Regions from separate parts of the Homo sapiens genome. Here region 1 is linked to region 2. The links come from fine-mapping of genetic effects on gene expression. A gene starts in region 2. The other region holds a variant in brackets. All regions are shown on one strand. Distances are between the middles of the regions.

The links. PIP is the estimated chance that this variant, and not a neighbour inherited with it, causes the effect.
Region 1: its variant is the best candidate, but not a certain one, in a credible set for the expression of KISS1R in whole blood (INTERVAL, PIP 0.71).

The regions. Positions count from the first base shown.
Region 1 is chr19:894,156-899,463 of GRCh38, reverse strand. R3HDM4 (R3H domain containing 4) reads left to right here. Exons shown (of 8, transcript NM_138774.4): 7 at 1-24; 8 at 1,924-2,961. The coding sequence ends at 2,027. Among named protein-coding and RNA genes, the nearest start is that of RNU6-9, 3.3 kb to the right of the region's middle. RefSeq lists a silencer at 488-688. The variant CT/T (reference allele first, on the strand shown) is at 3,106.
Region 2 is chr19:914,294-919,654 of GRCh38, reverse strand. It overlaps KISS1R (KISS1 receptor), which reads right to left and starts at 2,322. Exons shown (of 5, transcript NM_032551.5): 1 at 1,909-2,322; 2 at 987-1,111; 3 at 30-165. The coding sequence starts at 2,152. RefSeq lists an enhancer at 1-748 and silencers at 1,742-1,941, 2,342-2,431, 2,442-2,581.

The sequences.
Region 1 (5,308 bases), 20 kb after region 2:
AGTACATGGACCTCATCTCGGCCAGTAAGTGCCGGTGGCCCCCAAGACCCCAAGTTGGCCAGCTCAACCTGGGAAAGTGGCCAGGGTCCCAGGGGCCTGGTTCCTCAGAGTGGGGCTTGGTGGGGAGGTGGGGAAGGGGGCTGGAGTGGGGACGCTACGAACTCAGGGGTGGCAGTGGGACCCTGCCTTGAATTCACCAGAAGCTCCCTGCATATGCGGCCCCACGCAGGGTGACCGCAGACACAACCAGGCTGCTGGACACAGACACTCCTCCATCTGCATCTTCGGGGCCCGGGGTGGGGGTGATGAAGCCTGGATTTGAGGGACCTCCCAGAGCCAGAGATAAGATGGGGGGACGCAGTGTCTGGAAGGTTTGCATTTAACTCTAAGGCCTCCCACATACCACACGTGGGACCTCAGGCGAGACCCCCTACTGGCCCCTGCGCTCCACTTTTCCAACGGGGCGCAGTCTCAGAACTCACCCCCGTAGTGAACGTCTGTGCAGGCGCCGCCGGCCCCAGGCACCCCATCTGGTCCTGAGCCTCTCACACCTGTCTCTGCCGCCCCGCCTGGAGTTGCCGAGGTGACAGTTTCCATGGCAACCGGACGATGCCTCCCTCTGTTCCCTCTGTGGGAGACGCAGCCCCCATGCCTGCCTCTGCTCAGAACATCCGGCCTTGGCTGGGGGTGCGGGGCTTGGAGCTTGGTGGGTGTGGAGCTGTGGTCCTGACACGGAAGAGGAGGGGTCCCAGCAAGATGGGGAGTAGAGGACGGGGGGGTCCCAGGCAGAGGGGACTGCTGAGGCGCGGAGCTCACATGGGACGTGGCTCTTTTTTTTTGTTTTGGTTGGTTAGGTTTGGTTTTTTTGAGACAGTCTCATTCTGCCACCCAGGCTGGAGTGCAGTGGCGTAATCTTTACTCACTGCAACCTCCACCTCCGGGTTCAAGCGATTCTCCTGCCTCAGCCTCCCGAGTAGCTGGGATCCCAGGTGCCGGCCAGCACGCCCGGCTAATTTTGTATTTTTAGTAGAGACGGGTTTCTTTTTTTTTTTTTTTTTTGAGACCAAGTCTCGCTCTGTCACCCATGCTGGAGTGCAGTGGCGCGATCTCAGCTCACTGCAAGCTCCACCTCCCGGGTTCACGCCATTCTCCTGCCTCAGCCTCCCGAGTAGCTGGGACTACAGGTGCCCGCCACCACGCCCTGCTAATTTTTTGTATATATATATATATATATTTTTTTTTTTAGTAGAGACAGGGTTTCACTGTGTTAGCCAGGATGGTCTCAACCTGACCTCGTGATCCGCTTGCCTCAGCCTCCCAAAGTGCTGGCATTACAGGCTTAAGCCACCGCGCCCAGCCCTAGAGACAGGGTTTCACCATGTTGGTCAGGCTGGTCTCGACCTCCTGACCTCAGATGATCCTCCTGCCTTGGCCTCCCAGAGTGCTGGGATTACAGGCATGAGCCACTGCGCCTGGCCAGGTCATTCATTTTTCTGCAGTGAGGGGGAGATGGGGAAGGGGAGGCCGGTGGGAGCTGGACCACTCAGGACCTGGGTGCCTCAGAGCCACCTCTGCAGGGCAGGGAGCCTGAGGGGAGGCCGGACACTCCGCCAGGCAGGCGTGTGAGTGGCCATGCGGCCTCAGGCCCAGTGCGTTTCAGGGTCCCCATCCGCACAGTGGAATGAGTGCCAGCGGGGAGTGAGATGGGCCCGAGGAGAGTGCTCCTGTAGGGAGCCTTAGGTATTCTTGTGAGCCAGGCTCCCGGACCTGCGGGCTTAGGGCCAGCCAGGCCGCAGTGACCAGCACACACCAGCTGGCGGTGACCTCCCTGGGAAGAAGCGAGGGTGGTGCAGGTCCGAGGCACCTCTACCTGCCGCGGCTCCCAAATTCCTCCCGTTCTTGCCCCGCTGGTCCCGTCTGCAGGTGCTGACCTGGAGGGGAAGCGGCAGATGAAGGTCAGTAATCGGCACCTGGATTTCCTGCCGCCGGGGCTGCTCCTGTCCGCCTACCTGGAGCAGCACAGCTGATGGCGGCCCCGCGGAGACCCCGCTGCCACCTCGCCCAGCCATCAAGCCCTCCGATACCTTCGGCTAAAATATCTTTCATATTTTTAGAATTTGTCCTCGGAAACCTTTTTCGCTTGGGGTGGTCTCTCTCACTCTGCCCCCTCCTCACGCAGCTCTTGGCAGTCAACAGACGCTGGCGGCTGGGGCTGCCCATGCCATCCCAGCTCCAAGCTTCCCACTCCGGGACTTGTGTTTGGGTGGGGAGACCTGACCTGGGCATGTTCCTGTTTCTTCATCGTTGAGCTTTTCTGGCCCGGTCTGAAGCTCAAGTGAGGAGGGGGAGGCTGGGTTTTTATCACTTTTAATGAATTTGGTGTGATTTGTTGTAGATTTTTAAATTTCCCTTTTGGAGAGAAAAACCAAAAAAACTCGCCCCACTGGTAAAACATGGGTCTTGGTCCCAGCCCCTGCTCAGCCCCTCCCAGTTTTTAGCTTGAATGAGGGTGGGGTCTCTGGGACCCTGCCCCTCATGCCAGAAGCATCTTGTGTTGTATATGTGTGCGCGCGTGTGCCCTGAGACCCAGGACAGAAGCCACGGTCCTAAGAGCCGGTTTTATCCTCGTCATTCTGCGTGTCCTCCCCCACGCCACCTGTGTCGGGGCTCAGGGTCTCCTGCTTTATATGAGCCCCCTTCCTTTCCTCCCCTCCTTTATGCTGGGGGTCCAGGACTTCCAGCCAGAAGCCTCTGCCCTTGCACTACCTTGTCTGTCACCCCATCCCGTGTCCCCTCGTCCCCCAGCCTGACTCCTGCCTGATAGCTCCTGTGTCCCCATGCTGGTCCTCCTGGCCCAGGCTGCAGGAGCCAGGCTGGGGGGCCTCCGCACCCCCTTGCTGCGTGTGGGTAATTGTGTTTTGGGGGAAAGTGGGGAATTTAATAAATTTCTGGTGCTCTGGCCTCGGGCTATGTGTGTTTTTCTTCGGGGCAGGGCCGGGGGCTTAGTAGGTCCTGGCCACCAAGGGCTGCAGGTGCCCCCCTGGCTCCTCTGCCCTTGGTTGCCTGGATTCAAACCCTGGCTCTGCCACATGCCTGCCGTGTGAC[CT/T]TGGGTGAGGAGCTTGTAGGAGTGCCTTGGGGCCCCTGTAGACCTTGAGTGAGTGGCTTGTACGAGTGCCTTGGGGCCCCTGTAATGGAGGGTCTCACACAGGGGGCTTGAAACGACAGAAGGCCAGTGCAGTAGCTCATGCCTGTGATCCCAGCACCTTGGGAGGCCAAGGCAGGAGGATCGCTTGAGCCCAGGAGTTTGAAACCAACCAGGGCAACATAGCAAGACCTTGTCTCTACAAAACATGAGAGAAATTAGCAGGGTTGGCTGGGCATGGTGGCTGCTCACACCTGTAATCCCAGCACTTTGGGGATGCCAAAGCGGGTGGATCACAAGGTCAGGAGTTCAAGACCAGCCTGACCAACATGGAGAAACCCCATCTCTACTAAAAATACAAAATTAACCGAGTGTGGTGGTGCATGCCTGTAATGCCAGCTACTCAGGAGGCTGAGGCAGGAGAATTGCTTGAACCCAGGTGGTAGAGGCTGCAGTGAGCTGAGATCGCACCTTTGCACTCCAGCCTGGGCAACAAGAGCAAAACTCTGTCACACACACAAAAATTAGCAGGGTGTGGTGTGCGCCTGTAGTCCCAGCTACTTGGGAGGCTGAGGTGGGAGGATCACTTGAGCCTGCAGTGAGCTGAGACCGTGCCACTGCACTTCAGCCTGGGTATGGAGGAAGACCCTAGGTCAAAGAGAAGCAAAAGGGAAATCTATCCTCTCACAATGCTGGAGGTAGAAGAATGAGGTCATGGTGTCTGCAGGGCAGTGCTCCCTCCAGCGTCTCTAGGGGAGGAGCCTTCCTGCCTTTCCCGGTTTCTGGGGACTTCGTGTGTCCATGGCTTGTGGCCACATTGCTGTGGTCTCATCTCCAAGTGGCCGTTTTCCCTGTGTGTTATGTCTTGTCTTGACATCGTCCTCTCCTCACGTGTCTGTGCCCAAATATCCATCTCTATGATGCCCGTCATTAGGTTAGGCCCATGCTAATCACCTCCTTTTAACCTGATTACCTCTGCAAAGACCCTGTTTCTAAATAAGGTCACATTCTGAGGTAGTGGGAGTTAGGAATTCAACCTCTCTTTTTTTTTTTTTTTTTTTTTTAGACAGGGTCTGGCTCTGTTGCCCTGGCTGGAGTGCAGAGGTACAATCCCAGCTCACTGCAGCCTTGACCTCCCAGACTGAAGTGATCCTCCCACTTTTGCCTCCTGAGTAACTGGGCCTACAGGTGTGCATCACCCCACCCAGCTATTTTATTTATTTATTTATTTATTTTGAGACAGAGTCTTGCTCTGTCCCCCAGGCTGGAGTGCAGTGGCGCGATCTCAGCTCACTGCAACCTCCACCTCTTGGGTTCAAGTGATTCTCCTGCCTCAACCTCTAGAGTAGCTAGGACTACAGGCATGTGTCACCATGCCCAGCTAATATTTTTGTATTTTTAGTAGAGATGTGGTTTCAACATGTTGGCCAGGCTAGTCTCGAACTCCTGTTCTCAGGTGATCTGCGTGCCTCAGCCTCCCAAAGTTCAGGGATTACAGGCCTGAACCACCTTGCCCAGCGCCCCTCCCTCCCCAACCCTGCTAATTTTTAATTTTTTTTTGTAGAGACGGGGTCTGGCTATGTTTCCCAGGCTGGTCTCAAACTCAAGCTGTCCTCAGACCTTGGCCTCCCAAAGTACTGGGATTACAGGTGTGTGCCACCACACCCGGGCCGCTAAGAACGTTAAATCCCTACCTGCTGCCTGGGAATGGGGATTTTCTGTAAGGTCACTGCGTGGCCCTCTTGGAGAACTGAACCCTGATCCAGAAAAAACACTCTGATATTTGGGCCATTGTTAACCTGTAATTTTAGAACAGTTTTATATTTGCAGAATTCTTGCAAAAATCATGCAGTGAGGCCGCGGTGGCTCACGCCTATAATCCCAGCACTTTGGGAGGCCGGGGTGGAAGGAGGGCTTGAGGCCTGGAGTTTGAAATCAGCCTGGGCAACATAGTGAGACCCCATCGCTATTAAAATTTTGAAAAAACAGGCTGGGCGCGGTGGCTCACGCCTGTAATCCCAGCACTTTGGGAGGCTGAGGCAGGCAGATCACCAGGTCAAGAGACTGAGACCATCCTGGCCAACATGGTGAAACTCCGTCTCTACTAAAAATACAAGAATTTGTTGGGCATGGTGGTGCGCGCCTGTAGTCCCAGCTACTCGGGAG
Region 2 (5,361 bases):
CTCCCGTGAGGCCCCTGAGCTGTACTCACCTACCCAGATGCTGAGGCTGACAGCCAGCGCCAGGCGGGGCGTGCGGCGGTGCAGGGCGCGCAACGGGAACACCGTCACGTACCAGCGGTCCACACTCATGGCGGTCAGAGTGGCACACGTGGCCTGCACCGAGACCTGCGGGAGCCGCCAGCCGGGCGTGTGGCCACCTGCGCGGTTGGGAGCCTGCCCTGTCCGCCCGCCCTGCTGATCCCCCTACGTGTGCGAACACTCAGGCACATACACGGGAAGTGTCCTGGGAGGAGTGTCCAGTGCGGGTTGAGGGGACAGAAGGTGGGGAGACTGGGAGAGGAGGGCAGGAGGATTGGGGAAGTGAGGGAGCCCTTGGGGGGCGGCTGATACCCCGAGTCTGAGACAGGGGGGCTGCGTGGGATGGAGGGACAGGCGGGGCAAGAAGCCTCAGGGCCTCAGTAGCCCTTCCTCACCAGTGACCCGGGTCCCCGTCTGCATCCCTCCCCCATTCCCGCCCCCCACTCCAGTTCTAGGCTGCACCACCGCCCAGCCCCTTCCCGCAAGCTGGGCACCCCAGCCCCTGGTTCTCCTATGCGTTGCCTCGCGCCCCGCCCAAGGTCCGTCCTCCCTTCCCACGTGGGCTCCCCCTCCCCACATGCGCCCGCCCCCCGCTCCGGAGCTCATCCCCTCTCCTCGTCCCCACGTGCGCCTCCTCCCCTCCTGCTCCAGAGTGCACCCCTGCCCCGCCCCACCATGCGCCCCCTCCCCTCCAGCTTCTGAGTGCATCTCCCTCCGTCCCCACGTGCGCTCCCTCCCCTCCTGCTCCGCAGCGCACCCCCCCTCCCCGTCCCCACGTACGATCCCCTCCCCTCCCACTGCGGAGCGCACTCCCGCCTGTCCCCAAGTGCGTCCCCTCCCCTCCCACTGCGGAGCGCACCCCCGCCCGTCCCCAAGTGCGCCCTCTCCCCTCCTGCTCCGGAGCGCACCTGCTGGATGTAGTTGACGAACTTGCACATGAAGTCGCCCAGCACCCAGCCGGGCAGCGGGTACAGCAGGGCCGTGAAGGGGACGCAGCACAGGAGGAAGGTCACGTCCGTGGCCGCCAGGTTGGCTGCGGTGGGGATGCGCGGGCGCTGGGCGTGGGCGCCACTGGCCGCGGGAACCGCCCAGCGCTCCTGGCCCTGACCCCTGGCCCCCACCTTGGTCCGAGTGACCAGCAGGATGGCTCAGGGAGGCCCCCCCCTCCCCCAGCGCCCCTGGCCTCCTCGGGCGGAGAAGTTGGGGCGCCTTCTAGTAATTCCCCCTTACATCTCAAACATTACGCCTCCGGCTCGGATTTCCTGGCCATTCCGGCAGAAATCGGTTCTGCTGGGCCCTGTCCGGGCTGGGGGAGCCTAAGCAGGCCCCTGACCCTCTGAGCCTCAGTTTCCACAACTGCAAACTGGAGACAATGGTGCCGGCCCAGCAGCCACCGACTGGGCTCACAGCTGTGTGTGATAGGGGACCCCAGGACACAAATGCATAAACAGGCTCAGAGAGCCACCGGGGCAGGGGTCGCAAACTAAGGCCCGCGGGCCAAGCCAGCCCCTCCCCCAGCCCTTTGTTCAGCTGACACCGAGCCGTTGGCCCGCGCTGCACCGGGGCGAGCCCCGCGAGTGGCCAGGTCGAGGTTTCCATGTGCCACACTCCCCACCCTCCGGCCCGCCCGGGCCCGCCCGCGCTGGAGTTTGCGACCTCTAGCCTCAGGTGCAGGGACCACAGGGAAAAGATTCGAGGTTGGGGGGGACCCCTGCAGGGGACAGAGCCGGGTCCGAGAGGGCCCCGATGCGTCGCGAGAGGGCGCCCCAGGCCGCTCGGCCCTCGGAGCCCCCGGGACGGCAGCAGGTGCGGCGCAGCGCCCGCACTCACCGATGTAGAAGTTGGTCACGGTCCGCATCGGCTTGTGGCGGCAGATGACGTAGATGACCAGCGAGTTCCCCACCAGGCCCAGCAGCATCAGCGCCGCGAAGAAGAGCGGCACGAGCCAGGCGTCCACGGCCCGCGGCGAAGGGACTGGGCCGTCCGAGGCGTTGGCGCCACAGCCCGGGCAGCCGGAGGCGTTGGCCGGTGCCCCCCAGGACGCGTTGGGTCCGGACGTAGCCACGGTGTGCATGGCCGCGCGCACCTCCTCCTCCCGGCCGCCCTCCAGGATTGCGCCCTGGCACCGCCCCGGGGACCCCTCCGCCCGACCGCCCGGGGGCTGCGCCTGTGGAACTCAGGAAGGGGCTCGGCTGGGGTCCGCAGGGTCCAGAGGGCAGCTGTGCTGGGCTCGGCGGCTCCTCTGCCGGCGCCGCTGCGGCCGAGCGTTTATAGCCCGTGCCCCCCTCCCCTGGCCTTGCCTTCCCGCCTCTCCGGCAGCCGCTCGCCACTCCCTCCCCTGCCCACGCGCCCTCTATTCACCCAGCGGCAACCCCCCTATTCCCTCCTCCCGGTGCAAGGTCGGAGTGAGAGCGCGGGAGGGGGCTGGAGGGGGCGGAGCAGGCAGGGGGTGGGCCGCGTGGAGGCCGCTGTGGACCTGGAAGGACCGACCTTAACCAGCGAGTAGACGCTCAGCCCGGACTAGGAGCCCAGCCAAGGCGCGAACTCTAAGGCCTGTGAATATGGGAAGGGCTTTGACCCTCGTAGGGGCTGGGGCTCCAGGGGGTGGGCCCAGCCTGGCGGGGAGGCCAGCCCTCAGCGGAGACCCTGAGTGAGGATAGCTTGGGTTTGTCCCCAGGACCCTGGAGAGCCATGGAAAGTTCAGGGCAGGTGAGGGACGTCCCCGATCTGGTGGTTTGGGACTGAATGTGTCCCACATGACTGACAAGGGGTGTCTGATACCCGCAGGGACACTAGCAGCGGGAACCAGGTGGAGGGCACCTTGCAAACGCCACAGCCTCATTATTATTATTATTATTACTGATTTATGTATTTATTTATTTTTTTGAGACAGAGTTTCGCTCAGGTCGCCCAGGCTGGAGTGCAGTGGCTCCATCTCGGCTCACTGCAAGCTCCGCCTCCCTGGTTCACGCCATTCTCCTGCCTCAGCCTCCCTAGTAGCTGGGACTACAGGCGCCCGCCACCTCGCCCGGCTAATTTTTTGTACTTTTAGTAGAGTCAGGGTTTCACCGTGTTAGCCAGGATGGTCTTGATCTCCTGACCTCGTGATCCACCCTCCTCGGCCTCCCAAAGTGGTGGATTAGAGGCGTCAGCCACCGCGCCCGGCCTTTTATTATCATTATTGAGACAGGGTGTCGCTCTGTTGCCTAGGCTGGAGTGCAGTGGCATGATCTCGGCTCAAAGCAACCTCCGCCTCCCGGGTTCAAGCAATTCTCCTGCCTCAGCCTCCCGAGTAGCTGGGATTACAGGTGCCTGCCACCATGCCCGGGTAATTTTTGTATTTTTAGTAGAGACCAGGTTTCACCACGTTGGCCAGGCTGGTCTCGAACTCCTGACCTCAGGTGATCCACCCTCCTCGGCCTCCCAACGTGCTGGGATTACAGGCGTGAGCCACTGCTCCCGGTCCAGCTAATTTATTTTTAAATTTTTTATTTTTTATTTTTTTGCAAATAAAGTTTTTTTTTTAATTTTATTTATTATTTTATTTTATTATTATTATACTTTAAGTTTTAGGGTACATGTGCACAATGTGCAGGTTAGTTACATATGTATACATGTGCCATGCTGGTGTGCTGCACCCATTAACTCGTCATTTAGCATTAGGTATATCTCCTAAGGCTATCCCTCCCCCCTCCCCCCTTAAATTTTTTTGTAGAGACAAGATCTCACTAGGTTGCCCAGGCTTGTCTTGAACTCCTGAGCTCAAGCAGTCCTCCTGCCTCAGCCTCCCAAAGTGCTGGGATGACAAGCATGAGCCACCCAGCCTGGTCAGCACAACCTTGACTCCATAATCCCACAGCTGGAAGTGTACCCCAGGATGACATCCAGGAGGTTCCCCCAAAGTCCATCCTGCAACAGAGTCCAAGACATTTGGTCATCATGGAGTAATACACAGCGAAGAAAAAGGTGCTTCCATTTGCATAAAAAAAGACAAAAAAGGGAGGAAAAAAAATGAATAGGCCGGGCACAGTGGCTCATGCCTGTAATCCCAGCACATTGGGAGGCCGAGGCAGGTGGATCACTTGAGGTCAGGAGTTCCAGACCAGCCTGGCCAACGTGGTGAAACCTGGTCTCTACTAAAAATACAGAAATTACCCGGGCTTGGTGGAGGGTGCCTGTAATCCCAGCTACTTGGGAGGCTGAGGCAGGAGAATCACTTGAGCCCAGGAGGTGGAGGTTGCAATGACCTGAGATTGCATCACTGTAGGCTGGGTGACAGAGCGAGACTCTCTCAAAAAAAAAAAAGAAGAAGAAGAAGAAGAAGAAGGTACAGACAGGACAGGCCCAGGCCCCTGAAGGGAAGCCCTGGAACCCAGAATGGGAGGAAGGCCCAGGAAGTTCTCTGGAGTTGCCTCCCTCTCTCACGAATAAATGTTCAGGTCCATTCTTTGAGCATCTACCCTTACCCTGTGCCTGATGGATGGGGAAACCACTCATTCCCGATGCCCAGCTCCCCTGCCAGTCACTCCTGATACATCTCTCCATTGTCCTTTTTCACCTCTTTGCACATTTATCTACAGGAATCTCACAGTGCACGCTTTTTTGAGTCCATCCACAGTTTCTCATCCTTTTCTTTTTCCTCCTTACTCTTTCTTTCTTTTTCTTTCTTTCTTGCTTTTTTTTTTTGAGACAGCATCTCGCTCTGTCGCCCAGGCTGGAGTGCAATGGCACAATCTCGGCTCACTGCAAGCTCTGCCTCCTGGGTTCACTCCATTCTCCTGCCTCAGCCTCCTGAGTAGCAGGAACTACAGGCGCCTGCCACCATGCCCGGCTAATTTTTTGTATTTTTGGTAGAGATGGGGTTTCACCGTGTTAGCCAGGATGGTCACAATCTCCTGACCTCATGATCCACCCGCCTCGGCCTCCCAGAGTGCTGGGATTACAGGCGTGAGCCACTGTGCCTGGCTATTTTTTTTTTTTTTTTTTTTTTTTTTGAGACAGAGTAGTCTTACTCTGTGGCCCAGGCTGGAGTGAAGTGGACGGCTCCCTGCAACTTTTGCCTCCCATGTTCAAGCGATTCTTGTGCCTCAGCCTCCCATGTAGCTGGGACTATGGGTGCATACCACCACGCCCGGCTAATTTTTGTAGTTTTAGTAGAGATAGGGTTTTGCCATGTTGGCCAGGCTGGTCTCAAACTCCTGACCTCAAGTGATCCACTGGCCTTGGCCTCTCAAAGTGCTGGTATTACAGGTGCGAGCCACCGTGCCCAGCCTCCCTCTTGCT